2 linked regions of the Homo sapiens genome follow. The protein of the gene in region 1 interacts with the protein of each later gene in a biochemical or structural test. Each region holds a gene or a part of one and is shown on either strand. Other genes may lie near its edges.

The links. Proteins that work in one complex are often made in the same cells at the same time.
Region 2: the proteins of IPO8 (region 1) and AGO3 form a complex in vitro, tested with the Homo sapiens proteins (one study listed by BioGRID).

What each region holds. Positions count from the first base shown.
Region 1 is NC_000012.12:30,685,373-30,692,982, reverse strand, and holds part of IPO8 (importin-8), read left to right. Parts: intron 1-2,405; coding exon 2,406-2,487; intron 2,488-7,092; exon of another isoform or gene 7,093-7,183; intron 7,184-7,610. UniProt on the Homo sapiens protein: Involved in nuclear protein import, either by acting as autonomous nuclear transport receptor or as an adapter-like protein in association with the importin-beta subunit KPNB1.
Region 2 is NC_000001.11:35,926,878-35,934,650, forward strand, and holds the start of AGO3 (protein argonaute-3), read left to right. Parts: upstream 1-4,227; 5' UTR 4,228-4,549; coding exon 4,550-4,568; exon of another isoform or gene 4,569-5,982; intron 5,983-7,773.

The sequences.
Region 1 (7,610 bases):
ACTATGTTGCAGATATTGGTATAAGAGTTTGTTTCCATGGAGCTGGGGATACAGGCAAGTAACTAATATAATTTCAGGTCATAAGTGCTGTGGAGAGTAAAGCCCGAGCAAGAGTGTTGGGATGTATAGCCATTCTCTGAAGAATGGCATTGAGTAGAGAGTTGGATGTTGTGAAGGAATGGGCCAGGCAAAGAGCAGAGAGAGGAACAACAGTTCAGAAAAGGCCCTCAACTTGGCGTGCTGGAGGACTGAGAGGGAATATCGGTTCAGAAAAGGCCCTCAACTTGGCATGCTGGAGGACTAGAAAGGTTAATGCAGCGGAGCAGTGAGTCAGAGGATGGGAGGAGACATCAGTTTTTTGCTTTATGAGTTCTCATAAATGCAGAATTTAGTTAAGCAAACTGCGTATTTGCAGAAAACTTCACAGATACAAAATATCCTCAGGAAATCATTGAGAAATTAGTCTTATTTATTTTTTAGAAACTCGAAGCCTGAAGAGGCACAAAGAAATTGAGTAACTATTTCTGAGTAAAGTAGTATGAAAATATATCTGACTATATCTCTGAATGTTTTAGCTGGCCAAGTTAATATAGAATGAATCAATGCTGAAAGAAGACAAGGTTTCTGAAATTTTTTAAAATGGCAAACAGTTGCAAAAAGAGGAGTTTCAAAATCTGTACAATGGCAACAGTGTTGACATAAAAGTCTCTGCAATAGGTATATTACTTTCAAATAAGTAGCATTTATTTAAGTGTAAAGGTTATTTTGTATGTGTGGAATAAGATTTTTAAACAAATAACGGAAGTCAGTTTTTTTATGATTAGAATAAACTATATAGATGTTTTAATCTTTGATTCATGACAAGATCTTTCAGTATTTACAAAGATAAACATGAGTTATAATACATATGTAGAAGGTGAAGGCTGGGTGAATCTGTGTTAATTTTGCCTCCTATCAACGGTTGTTAGAACAAATCTGTTTTCTTAAAAACTGCTTTGAAATTCTGATGGTTTCAATTATGGATAAAAAAGAATTTACATGCCACAGATTTGTGATCTGAAGACTACACAGGATGAAAGGAAGAAAATTATAATTCAAAATTTTGTGAAGGATATAGAAAGATTGGGAAAGCACAATGTTCTTGGATGAAAAAGATTAATATTTTTAAAATGCCAGTTGTGTCCAAATTAATTTTTTAATCAAACACTTACCTTCATAGATGTGATTTTAATTTAAAAAAATGAATAATATGCCCAAACCTAGCTGTGTATTGAAAGGGATGCCCCCACAGATCCAGGCTCTGAGGAGAGGGGTGAGCTGAACAGACTCTCTGGGTCATTGTCTGGTTTGGCCTCACTGGAATTTGAGTCTTTTCAAATGAATGTCAGTGGACAAAGGCATATGTGGACTCTGGAATGTGACAGGACTGTAATATAGTCCAGGTACTGTACATCTGGATATAACGTGATCAGAAGGAGTGGATGCTCTGTATTTTTTTGCTTTGAAGGTCCCCATCGCCAAACTCAGGAGCAGATCATAGTAGAGCACACCTGTGGGGTGAAGTGACCCAGGCCACAGGGCAGAGCAGGAGCTTCATCCCCACAGGCTCACTTAGGCATTAAGTGTAAAAGATAGTACAGCAGTAGAGGGCAGCTGGTGATGACAGTGTGCTCAACCCCATCTCGTGAGTCACACTGTTCCAATCTGGACTGGCTTCTCTCCATTGCTCACGCTCAACTTTGTAACATTATCTTCTCTGTTTTGCTCTGTTGGGTCTCCTATTTCCTGTAGCCTTTGTTTTTTTGTTTTCTGTTTGTCAAAAATACCATAAACAAAATTGAAGCACAAATAATCTAGGAAGAAATACTTGCCATGTATAGGTCAAATAAAAGATTGAGATTTTAAATTCATAAATAGCTCTTAGAATTTATTAAGAATAAAGCAAATACTCCATTTACAAAAGGATAAAGGGAGTAAGGAATTTGTAGAAAAAACAGCCAACAAAGAGGAAAACACCCAACCTCCTTAGTAATAGAGAAAATGCAATTTAAAACATTAATAAAATTTTAAAGTTTCAAAGGAATGATGATACCTGTATTAGATAGATGGACACTACCATATGCTGCTGTTGGGAGTGTAAATTGGTATACTACTTCTGGAGACCATTCTGACAATATGTTAAAAAAAATCATAAAAATGTTCACATTCTTTTATTCATCAGTTTCTGCTCAGGAAATTTTTTTGACTTGAAGTATTTTAGTAATCTTCATTTTGCCTTGAAGGGTTTGTCTCAGTTTAAAAGTTTTTCTTTTATTTGGACAGTAATGTATTCAGTAACCGGTGCTAACTTATAAGCTACTCACTTATATTGCCCTATTTTATAAAACATTTCTTTGTAATTTCAGTCCTACAAGATTATCAATTTTGCCCCCAGTTTACTTCGGATTATAGTCTCTGACCATGTGGAATTCCCAGTACGACAGGCAGGTGAGTTGGTTTTTTATCCTTTATAAATTTATTTATAGGTGAGAGTAGAATGAGAGTTTTATTTTAATTTTACATATCTGTAATTTATTGAAAAATTCAGAAGCACTAGCACTCATGAAGTATTTCCAGTGACTTCAAAACTCACTTTCTTTTTCCCCAGAAATTTAGAGGTAGATACTGAGCTCTCAAATATCTTCTAGCTCTTTTTTTTCCTCCTCTCCCTTTTACCCACCAATTCCTTGCCTCTGTAACTTTGCCCTTATTTTTCTCAATTTTAATAGCTGATCTCTCTAACGTTTTATGATTTCTGGTAGCCTAGCCTCTGGGCCCATAGATTAAGACCATGAATTTATATATGTGAATTCGAGCTCTGTTACGTGGCAAATCATGGAGGTAATGTGTTGCACAGATGTTCCTAACCCAGGTGACTGCGGAGCAGGACTATGTTTTAAACATGAAACTTACTTTTAAGTCTGTGGGATCTTACGTTGTTTCATGATGTTGTACATCGTTCTTTTATCTTGTTTTTTTATGGACTGGTCATTAGAGCCCAGAAGGTTAAAAATTAGAGCCTTAGAGTATCATGAATTTTCAAAAGATAATAATCAAAAGCTAAAGGAGGTAAACGACAATAGCTAATTAAAAATAAGTATTTAAAAAGACTTGTTATGTAAGTGACATATACATGTAAGTAATTTGGACAATTTAGAAGAATACAAAGAAGGAAGTAAAACTACCCAACATTCATCACTCAGAAATGGCCATCATTACTCATCATTAACGTTAGGTGAACATTAGCCTTTCCATGTGTTCACGTAGAAGGATAGATGAACAGTTTCAGAGAAATGGGTCATAATCTACATGCTGATGAAAGTATTTAATTTGATTTGAACATAGAATAAAAAGATAAAGAAATATTAAGCTTTGGGAAGATTTATAACACTATATATGATTTCCTGAAAGATCACTTTGTGGTTAAGATAAAAAAGAAAATCCTATGGAAAAACACTGATGTTGGAATTATTTTTTGCTTTTATAAGGTTTACAAGACTTCTGTGTAAATTTTTGAAACCACAATTGGCACTTGTTTCATCTTTGTTTTATAAAATAGGGCTGTTCTGGAATAACATTTTGTTGAATGGAACCTATTTTAAAAACCTAAGTGTTTATAGGGCCATTGTAAAGTTCCTATGAAGCATTTAAGAAATAACATTTTAAAAGATCTTAAAACAAGTTTTTACATTAATGTCTTCCTTTAATGACATGGAAACATTAGAAAAACACAGTTTATAACTTACATTGTTCTTAATACACCCAAAGATGACTGCCATCAGCTTTGATGCGTGGCTCTCCAATTCTTTTTTTTATATTACACATGCTATTTTACAGTTTCCTTTTTTTCATTTAACCATGTACCCTTGAAGATTGCTCCAAGTCAGTGCATATAGATACTTCATTCTTTATAACAGCTGTGCAGTATTTCTTTATATAAGAATTACCATGGTTTACTTAAACGATTTGATATTGATGGACATTTCGCTTATTGTCTTTTTTTCATTGTTGATAGAAGCAATGCTAAATGAGTGTCATTTGATATGTATCTAGGTACTTGTGGGAGTGTTTTTATAGAATAAGTTATAACAAGGGGAAATGCTTGGCTAATGGATATTTATGACATTTAGAATTTAGAATCTTCTCACTAAGTTGCTTTTGCTTACATTTTCTACCAACAGTGCATTAGAATGCTAGGTTCCCCAAATCCTCACCAACTCTGTACAACTTAATGAAGTTTTGATGTAAAATGTAAACAGCATTGAAAGGCATTTTTTTCTTCATAATTTGTTTTTTCATAATTTAGATTTCAAATCCTAAATTTAAGTGGTATTTATAAATTTTCTGTTCTGTTTAATCTATTATTAAAATACAAGGATGCTCCAAGACACCTAGAAAGATAATTTATCTTTAGCATGACACTTAAAAAAGAATGTTGTGATTTTTGCTTTAAAAGAAAGCCTGTATAAAGCTGTAAAAAAAAAGTTATGCTAATGTTAAGTGGAAATACATCTGCAAAATACTTTTTCTCTTTTGCTTGTGGGCAATCTAAAGTGTTCTTGCTACCATCAAGCGTGCTCACTGGTGAATGTCCTTTCTTACCTTACTGTGAGTTTTCAAGAAACAGGAAAAAATTAAGTATTTTGATGTTGCCAAGCAAAACAAAAAAATTTGAATGTTTGGTCTGCTGCTTTTCTTTTGAGGTGTTGATAAGCATAATAGCATTATTAATATTATCATGTGCGGTGAAGGAAGCCTATCTTAAATTTAGGATAGTTATGATCTGGAATTTCAAATCACTTTTGTTTCTAATTTTTTACTTCTTACATCTGAAGAGACTCTTTAGTAAAATTTCTCTAATATATGTAAATTTAGGCTCAGAAATGTACTTTTTTCAGTGCATTTTGGAGTTGCTACGAGAAGGAGAGAGTAGTTTGGATTTAAAAGTGGTGGTTGAGAGGTATTAGACCTGAAGAGGTCATCAGTGGTGACAGATGTGGGACTGTCATTTAAAAAAATAGCATGGTTTTTGATTTCTATAAGTTTGCCTGCTCCTTGTTGTTTCTTTTTGTTTGTATTTCCAAAGGATGGACAGGGAGAAGATATAACAATTCATTCTGTGGTTATTTGTTTAGAGGTTATTTGTTAAGATTGACGTCAGCATTGCAGAGTGCAGAACCTAGAAATAAACAGAAAGATGCCTCTGATCAGTCCAGAAGCACTTTAAGAAGCTTTTATTAACATTCATGCATTTTATTTGTAGAAAGCTTTGTGGCTTGTGCTCAGAATCTATTTAATATTGTTTTGATAGAATTGACACATTTGTTGTCTAATCTAGCCTTTCACAGAGTAATAAGGGAGAGAAGGGGTACAAAATTACAATGAAAAACAGCAAGACTTAGAAACATCAACTCAAAAGCATGACATTCTGCCCACCGAGATAACAGTACTTTCTCCACTTTGAGGTTATGAAACCCAATTGATTCTGTAGTTGTGTCTCTGGGTCCAGAGCTTAAGTGATGATTCATTGTGCTGAAGGAGAAAAGTGTGTGTGTGTTTTTAGAAAGTTAATTTCAACTTATGATGCTTAAAATGGTGAGTGGATTTTGTAGGAAAACTGTCTTAGAGCAGCCATTTTTATCATAGAATCTGAAATACATTTATAAAATTCTACATTATAACTATCCTAAATTTAAGTGCCATTTGTAGATTTTCTGCTCTATTTAATCTATTATTAAAATACAAGGATGCTCTAAGACACCCAGACAGATACAGTAAATTTAATATTTCCTTTATGAATTGGATTAACATGATATTAGTCCTTTGTTTCTTAGTTCTGGCAAATGGTTTGTATTTAGGCACTTGAATTAAATGATTAAAGGGAAGTTTTCAGATTATTGGTTGATATGGTAACAGTTATCTTTGGTATTTTTCCTTTATCCTTAGTAATCCATAATTATCCATCATAGTAATTAAAATTTTCTTTTTAATATATTTTCAATTTTATTTTACCTCATTGTACATTTATTTAGGCATATACAAATTAGTCAGTGTGCCTTTTTTAAAGGCTGTCTCGTTTGATGCACCATAATTTTTAAATTATAACTTTTCATTTATAAAATTAATATTAATAGTATTTAATGACTAAATCATAAATAAGTCCATGATTTTACCGTGTCTGTATTTTTACTGTCTAAAGGTTGCTTTTCTTTGTTTTCAAGACTAGTTCTATAGGGATCAAAATGATTTTGTGACTAATATAGTTGATTTTTCTTTTTGCAAAGATTGATCCTGTGAAATCAGGCTGGGTGTTCATGCCTGTAATCCCAGCACTTTGGGAGGCTGAGGTGGGTGGATCACTTGAGCCCAGGAGTTCAAGACCAGCCTGGGCAGTATGGCGAAACCCTGTCTCTACAAAAATACAAAAAAATTAACTGGCGTGGTGGTGCACGCCTGTATTCCCAACTACTTGAGAGACTGAGGTGGGAGGATCACCTAAGCCCTGGAGGTGGAGGCTGCAGTGAGCTGTGATTGTGCCCCTGGACTCCAGCCTGGGCGATAGAGTGAGACCCTGTCTCAAAAAAACCCCTAAATCCTGTGAAATCAGTCTGAACTGCTGACAGGTTGGTTCATATCCTTAGATCATTCATTCATTATTTTTTGAATAGTCTATACATTTTTATGGAATGTGTACTCTTTGCCAGTCACTGTTACATAATATAATGACTATACCCGATAAAACATGGTACCTAGTCTAGAGCTTGTGTGGTCTGAATTAAAAACAAGTAAGGGAAAAAAGAAAACTCTAACACACATCCCCCTTTATATAATTTTTGTTTTCACCCAAATGAATTGAAATCATAGATGGAACAGTTTTTCAGAACTTTAGCTACTCAAAACTAATGAAAGAGGAGCTTACCAGATGTCAAGTTCATAATTTCACTAAATTTCTTTTAAGTTTTAGCTAATGTAGAATGTATTGGTGTATTCTTTATGGTATAGTGCTTTGACTACCCAATTTAGTTTTTTTTTTTTTTTTTTTTGACAGAGTCTTGCTCTGTTGCCCTGGCTGCAGTGCTGTGGCATGATCTCAGCTCACTGCAACCTCCGCCTCCTGGGTTCAAGGAATTTGCTGGAATTACAGGTACCTGCCACCATGCTTGGCTAATTTTGGTATTTTTAGTAGAGACGGGGTTTCACCATGTTGGCCAGGGTGGTCTCGAACTCCTGACCTCAGGTGATCCGCCCGCCTCGGCCTCCCAAAGTGCTGGGATTACAGGTGTGAGTCACTGCTCCGGGTCATGAATTTAGTTATATGTTAAAAGTTGGGTGAAGAAAGAGTTGGGTGGGGAAAGAAGAGAAGCTTAAGGGAAGAAAGTTATGCTGCTTTGCAAATCACGTATCTGTATTCTTTACACACACACACACACACACACACACACAACATTATAAGTATTTACTTACATTCACTGTTCAACTGGGATGGTTAGAAAGCTTTACATTCTGGCCAGGTGCAGTGGCTCACACCTGTAATCCTAGCACTTTGGGAGGCCGAGGCAGGCAGATCACCT
Region 2 (7,773 bases), on another chromosome or scaffold:
GTGTCCTGTTGTTCTGGACTGTAGCATCTTCACCACCATCCTCTTGGCAATGGTTTTTTGTTTGGGGTTTTTTTTTTTTTTTTTTTGGACAAAGTATAATAATATTGAGGGACCTTTCTAGGGAGCCTTTGGTCCTTTGTCCCCATTTTCCAAAGGGAGGGAACTTTCCTCTTAAAAGAGACAGTGGGAACTTTTAGCCAGGTTTTTGGAAAAGGCCTGTGGGCTATTAATGAGAGTGAGCTGCAAAAGGAGGAAGGGTTTGTTTGGGTACTTTGAAGTACTTAGCTAGGTGTTTTCTACAGTATCTTATATAATTGCATCTTACAGCATCTTTACATGCGAAATAGTTTATCAGTTATCTTCAATTGCATATTACAAAATTCTGATTAAATTTTTCTTAAATAAGAAAACTATCATTTCATATGACAAGAAATCCTAATTTAATGTTACTCCAAGGTTGGTTAATTCAGTGGCTCAGTGATAACACCAAAGACTCAGTTTCTTGAAATTTTTTTGCTCTGCCATCCTCCATGTTTATCCTCACGCCAGTTCGCCTCATGGTCCCAATATGGCTACTGTAATTCTGGGAAGGAAATGCTGACAGAACCGTGTCTGGCAAAAGAGAGACAGATTTTTCTGTGTCCTTCTAAAGCAAGGAAGTCTTCCCCTGGAAGCTCCAACAGATACGGCCTCATGGCTTTGCTAGAAATGGGTCATCTCACTCCTGTCATTGGCAAAGCAAGTAAGATCATCCATCAGGAGTGGCTTAGATTAATGAATTATCCTTTGAGTCGTGTAGACTAGAAAGTTCAGTCATGTCTACTAGCAAGAAAGGAGATAAGGGCTGTTGGATAAGCAGCATCTGGTCTCAAAGGTACTTCAACTTTTACAGATGAGAAACATGAATCAGAGTGACTTTCCCAGGCTCACAGCAAGTAAGAGAGGGCCTTCAGTGTTAGCTGTGTCTGTCCCTAAAGCCCATGTTTTATATTGTATCTTGCTAGAGTATAAAGTAACTTACTTTCTACCTTGTAGAAACTGATGGTCTAGGAGAAGAGATTTGAACTCAGGTGCCCAGTTGACTCTAATCTTGGCCCATGTGAGAGGATTGTACTCAGTTGCTCTCCTCATCCAGTGATGTTTCTTGTCTAACACAAGAAGCCTAGGAGTAGAAAGTCCTAAGCAGAGTAGAATAATAGCGGCAGCAGGGAGGGAAGTGTGAACTGTGTGTCCCTGAGCCTGACTTACTGGGCAGGGACATGACACTTAAAGCGGCAGCTGGCCACTCTGTCTTTCCTGCATGCACTGAGTATTTGGTAGCTCATTAGTGACCAGTGATATTGATCATCTTTTCATGTGCTCACTTACTATCCCCATATCTTTGTTGTTTGCATCTTTTACCCATTGTATTTGTTGTTTTTGAGACAGTGTCTCACTCTGTCACCCAGGCTGGAGTGCAGTCTCATGATCGCGGCTCACTGCAGTTTCTGCCTCCTGGGCTCAAGCAATCCTCCCACCTCAGCCTCCTGAGTAGCTGGGCTTACAGGCGCACACCACCATGCCCAGCTAATTAAAAAAAAAATTTTTTTTGTAGCAGTTCGGTCTCATTAGTATTGCCCAGGCTGGCCTCTCTTAGCTTCAAGCTATCCTCCCGCCTCGGCCTCCCAAAGTGCTGGAATTACAGGCATAAGCCACAAGCCACTGGGCCCAGCCTCTTTTACCTGTTTCAAAATTGAGTTTTATTGAGTTGTAAGAGTTCTTTATTCATTTTAAACACAAGTCCTTTGTTGGATATATCTTTTACATCTATTTTTCCCAGTCTGTGGCTTGCCTTTTCATTTTGAAGAGCAAAAGTTTAAAATTTTGTGAATTTATTAAAGCTCCGTTTGTTGCTTTTTTCTGTTCTAGTTTATACTTTTGTATCATATTTTAGGAAATTTTGCACTGGGTATTTGATGGCTCCTGAGGAGGTTCAACTTTCAGAGCGCACTGATTTCTCTGCACCTGAGATTTTGTACTATTTCTGTATTTCTTTCTTCTCAGAACAACCAGTGTCACCAGGTATGAGGGCAGAGTTTTAGCTTGTTTGCTGAGCCCCATTCTTGAAGCTCATTTATTTATTCACCTATCTGTCCATCAATCCAACAAATATACTGAATGCTGCTATGTGCCAGGTACTGGCACTGTTCTAGGTACTGGGGCAATGACAGTTAAGATAATACCCAATGACCCTGCTCTGTACCCTTAAGAGCAGACTCAGTTGGGAATGAGTTATCCAAATATAGGGTGTACATGTAGTCAGGAGAGAGCCTCATACAGCTTTGCCTTTGGCAGAATCCTTCAAACCTCTTTGTCTTCCTACTTCTTGATATTACAAATCATGAGCCTTTCACATGCATTGACTCTAAAGAGGTGGGTTCCTGGATAGCAGAAGTAGATAGGAAGGCATCATTGACATTTACTGAGATGGATTGAATCAGAGGGTGTAAATTCTGCTCCATCAATGTTGAAAAAGACTAGCCCACCCCAAAGGTTTATCACTGTCACCATGTCTAATGTCTATTCTGGAAGAAGCTGAAGAAGTCTGCCTTTGTTTAGGGAACCGGTTCCAGAATCAGAGGGGTTGAGGATATAAAAGACCCTTGCACAAGAGTTGGTATTTACCCTGTCAGATGCTGCTACCAAGATTTGGATTGTGTACAGTCGAGGATTAAAAATGACTTTTAAGATGCAGTGTTTCATCTGGTGACATTTAATTTGATATTTTAAAATTGGGGAGGGTATTTTCAGCCATGGGGGTAGGGATGTGAAAGAAGAAGAAAGTAAGAATTGGAGTCAGATGTGGTTTTGAGTCCCATACATTTATTGTTTAATATTATATGGTAAGTACTTTAAAATGGTAAATAGTAAATACTTGTGTTATTCACTAACATTTGGGGAGGATTTTCTCTGTGCTTTATGTATATTACCTAACCTTACAAACTGTGTAAGGTACATGCTGTTCTCTCAATTTTTCAGATAAGAAAATTGAAGCCCAGAGAGATCAAGTGACTGATCCAAAGTCCCACAGTGAGGGGAACTGAAGATAGGATATTCTTTCTCCTTTTCCTCTTTAAAAAATTATTTTGATTAAAAAAAACCGTATTACTGAAGCATAGGGACATGGGGAGAAATTATGAATGATTCCTCAGCCTGAATAAAATAGTATGTTTCATTAAGGCAACAAATATTTATTAAGGACCTAATATTTGCCTGACATTCAAGTGAGGTGGGGGGCACACAAGTAGTAAATAAATAACAGACTGGGCAAAGGGCTACCAAGGCAATACTGTAGTAGACTAACAGGTGCCCCACCATAGATGGGTGGTCCGGAAAAGGCGTCTCAGATGTCTTTCGTTGAGACGCAAAAAAAAGCTGTGGGGTAGGGCGTAAGGGGAGGGTGGAGAAGAGAGAGAGGGTTCCTGGCCAAGGGAACCAAAAGCAGAGAAGCTCCAAGTCAGAAAAAAGCAGCGGTTGGCCCGTTGGGAGAATTGGAAGCCAACCAGTATAGCTGTAGCACAGGCGGGGCCCATTTACGCCGTGCGTTTTCACCCTGGAAAGGAGTTTGGGTTTTCAAGTGTGACGAGGCGCTATTAAAGAGTTTTAAACATGGAAATTACTCGATCTGATGTTTGTGTAGTGTCCTGTTTGTTAGTCATCTTTTCCAAACTATAATACATTTTTTTTTTCCTAAAAATGGTCGTTAAAGCAGCCTAGGACTTAGGTCAATTGCGGTGGTCACTTGACCGCCTGTGAGGAGGCGGCGCGTGGGGTGGATCGGACTGGGCGTGGCGGGGGCTCAGGAAGGAGGGTGGCCCTACCCCAGCGGGCTCGGCTCGGGGCCTCCGCGGCAGTTCGGGGTCCTTCACCCGCCGGCTCCAGGTAGGCTACTCCTCAGGTAAGCCCCGCCGCCAGCCGCGACGTCGTCGCAGACAGGCACCGCCCCCACTCGTGCGGCGCGAGTAGTCCTGCCCCTCCGCGTTGTCTCCGGCCGGCACGGCCCGGCGGGGTACGGCCGAGCCCGCCGCATGTGGCCCGGCTCCCGGACACCTCCCCGGCGTCCTCCGCGCCGGCCGCTCCTGCCCCGACGTCGCTCCGGCACGGCTCGGGGCCCAGAGGCGAGGCGAGGACGCCGGGCAAGCCAGGCAGCGGAACTGACGCCGGCGAGCTTCCGGGGCGGCCCCGGGCAGGTCGGCGGCGGCGGCCCGCAGTCGTGGAGGAGCGGTGGGAGCGTCGGCGGCCGCGGGCGATGCAACTTCCGGACGGGACTCCCCTCTGTCCGCGCCTCACATCTCCCCTTCCTCTCGCCTAGTCCTGTGCCGTTTTCCGTCCGCGACTCTTCCGGCCCAGAGCTTTCGGAGTGCGGTTGCTCAGGGGAAGCCGTCGCCGCCCCCGCCTCGGGGCCGAGTGAGAGTGCCCGTCGCGTCGCGCCGCGTCGCCCCCCGGGCCGCCTCCTTGCCGCCAGTGGCGGGCTCCGTTCTCCCTCGAAGCACTCCCCCCAGCTCCATGAATGGAAATCGGCTCCGCAGGTGAGTCAGAGTAGCTGGGCCAGGTAGGGGATGTCACCCAGCTACTGTCCTCTGAGCATCCCTGCTCCTCCCGCCCGGCCCAGGTGCGCGAGGTGAGCGTCGGGCGGGCATCGCTCGGTCTCCCGCCCCTCGCCCTGCTCCTCCGCGACCTCCCCGCAGCCCAGCCCCAGTTCCCCGGGGGCCCCTGAGTCGGCGAAACTGCGAGGCGGGGAAACGCTTGGAGGATTTAAGTTTGGGGTTATCTAGGCGGCATTACTCTTTGCTGGAGTACCCTTCTTCTAGACTTTAGAATGGTTTGCCATTGTCTAGTTGGAGTGCGTGTCCTTTAGCCAGGTTGTGTGTTCCGTAGAGGCTGGGCAGCCAGCCAGCTCCCTTACCTACCTCTTAGGATAGTTGTGAAGATAGGCTGAGATAACGGATAACTTCAGATTAAGTTCGAAGGAGGTGTTGGTGCAACGTTAAATTCAACATGGCATTGCTCCTACCCTCGAGTTCTTTTCTGTTGTTTGTGGCAGCATGGTAGATAGTTTCTGAGGAGCTTGGAAATGTCATAGCAGCCTGGATCCCTGCTTATACGAGGAGGTGGTTCTTAAAATTGCTGACAGTATATTTTTTTTCATTCTCTATTCCTTAGAGAAGTAGTTGTCATATTCCTGGAAATTTGGAATTTAAGAAAACTGCTTTATCTCTGGGGGCAAGAGCAGCAGTTTTGCAGTCTTAAGAGAAAATTGCAACATGGATAGTACTTGTCCTTAAAAAAGGAAAAGTATTGTTTATGGTTCTAAAGTAATTAATTCAGGGACAGAAAGGTGTTGCATAACGGTTTGCCTAACAAATGATCATGCTTGGCTTATTAAATTTGAAAGTATGCTTCAGACGATCACAAGTTCGTAAATTAATTTTCAAAATATTTGCGGGGCTGTCTTGTTACTAATGGTGTTACAAGTTCCTGAATTCCATATCTCTTTTTGCCAATTTGATATAAGAAAAACTTACGTAAAAGAAACCAGTGACATAACGATAGCTAAGAACTTTGTTGAATAGATTACGTGTCAAATGGTTGCAAAAAAGCACTCAAACTGGGGAGATGAGATGGGGAGAGAGTTACAAATTTTTTTTTTTTTTTTTTACAAATTTTGTTACATGGAAGTTTCTCTAATCAATTTAGACCATATCTCTTTTTCCTGCTCCATTGTTTCGCTTTCCCCCATATCGTCTTAAAAGGTCTGTCTGGATTGTGAAAAGATTTCGACTCTTATTCAGTTTTGATTTGTGTATTTCTGAAACTGTCCTGCCCTTTTAAAAAAATTACCATACTACTGTTTTACTGTACAGGAGATGTGATTATTTGGGACCATAGGTGATCTTTGTACATAACTGTCCTGTTGTCAAGTCTGGAAAACAAGTCATGAAGGTCAGACCCTTTATTAATCATCCCAAAACTTTTAAAGATATTTCAAAAAAGTTTTTAAAGTTTTTTCTTTTTCTCCTTAGGGTTTTTCATATGATATTGTGCCCATATATATGGGAAATGTCTTAGAAAACATTTGTTACATCAAACCACCTAGTCAACTGGTACAACTAAGCCAAGTACAGCTCAGAAAATACATTTTACCTCTTCTTTTTTGGGTGTCCCATTGCTGAAATGGATACCCATTTAGCTGTCTTCACATTTGGGGAAGTGTGTAGTTAGATTATCAACTATATGCCTGGGTCTCTTGAAAAGTAAAGTTTTTTCTTCAGTACAGTTTATACATGATTGAATGTAGCCTAATAATGAAGATAAGCTATACTTTGGCTCAAGATTGTCATCAGAAACAAAATTTTCATTATTCCTGAGACTTGTATATAATTGGTATGCTTAGCTTTAAGTTGAAAGCATAGCTGTGCAACTAAATTTTAAATCCATAATTTAGGCTGGGTGTGGTGGTTCATGCCTGTAATCTCAGCACTTTGGGAGGCTGAGGAAGGATGATCGCTTGAGCCCAGCAGTTGGAGACCAGCCTAGGTAACATAGTGAGACCTGCCTCTACAAAAAACAGAAAACTTAGCCGAGAATTGTGGCACATGTCTCCAGTCCTAGCTACTTGGGAGGCTGAGGCAGGAGAATGGATTGAGCCCAGAAGGCAGAGATTGCAGTGAGCTATGATCGCGCCACTAACTCCAGCCTGGGTGACGGAGCAAGACCCTGTCTCAAAAAAAAAAAAAAAAAAAAAAAAAAAAAAAATCATCATTTGACACGTATTTTGATTTTAAAATTTTAGTATAAATGTTCTCAAAAAGTCTATTGACTCAGTATTGAATCTTGGCTTTCCAATTCTGCCATAAGTTTTTCTTTTTTGTGGAGATTCTCAGGAATCATCTTGTGATAGGATATTTTAAATTCTAGTTGCTCGGTGGATACACAGAAAACTGTTAAATTTGTTTACATTAGGGAACCTCGAACACAAATACCATATAAGTTAGTATTTGTTCTTTCATATGAAATATTTTAAATGCTTTTTAAGGATATCTTGTGCAATCTACTGATTTAGTACCATCAGAACTTTGATTTAACAAAAAAAAAGGTGAAATTAGTTAAAAATTAATCAACAGTTTAACATCTGTGTCTGTGACTCTTTAGTTGGGGAACATCTGATGAAACACCGTTTTTTATGGTCTAATTACTGCTGAACTAAGAGTATAGGTTATGTTTCAGTTCTAAATAAAGTGGGAATAGGGAGCTGCAGAAATGCTTGATGATGTTACTTCTCCTGAGTACTCATTTTTTAGGTCCATACTATTCTAGTCTATGTTTTCAGGTAATGTTAGACTACCGTTTAGGACAGAGGAACTACACTTTATAATGGAAGAAAAACATTTACTTTTACCTTAAATTAATGACATGCAAATTGTTTGATGTTTGGTGGAAGTTTTATACAGTCTTGCAAAAGTGAATAGACTGTTTCTTTCTTATTTACACTTTTAAATTCATGTCTGAAAATAGTTGTTTTAGAGTTCTGTGTTTATTTAATAATAAAAGTTTTAGAAAAGTTATTTGGAACCAAGTTCCAAAGGAATAAAAGTTGCATATATGGGAAGCTAGAACTAAATCAAGATTGGGATTTGAATGATGTAGATAAAAATTATGGGTCAAAAATACCTACTAAAATATGTAATGCCATCAGGGTCCCAATTTAGTATTTAAAACAATCTTCTTTTTATT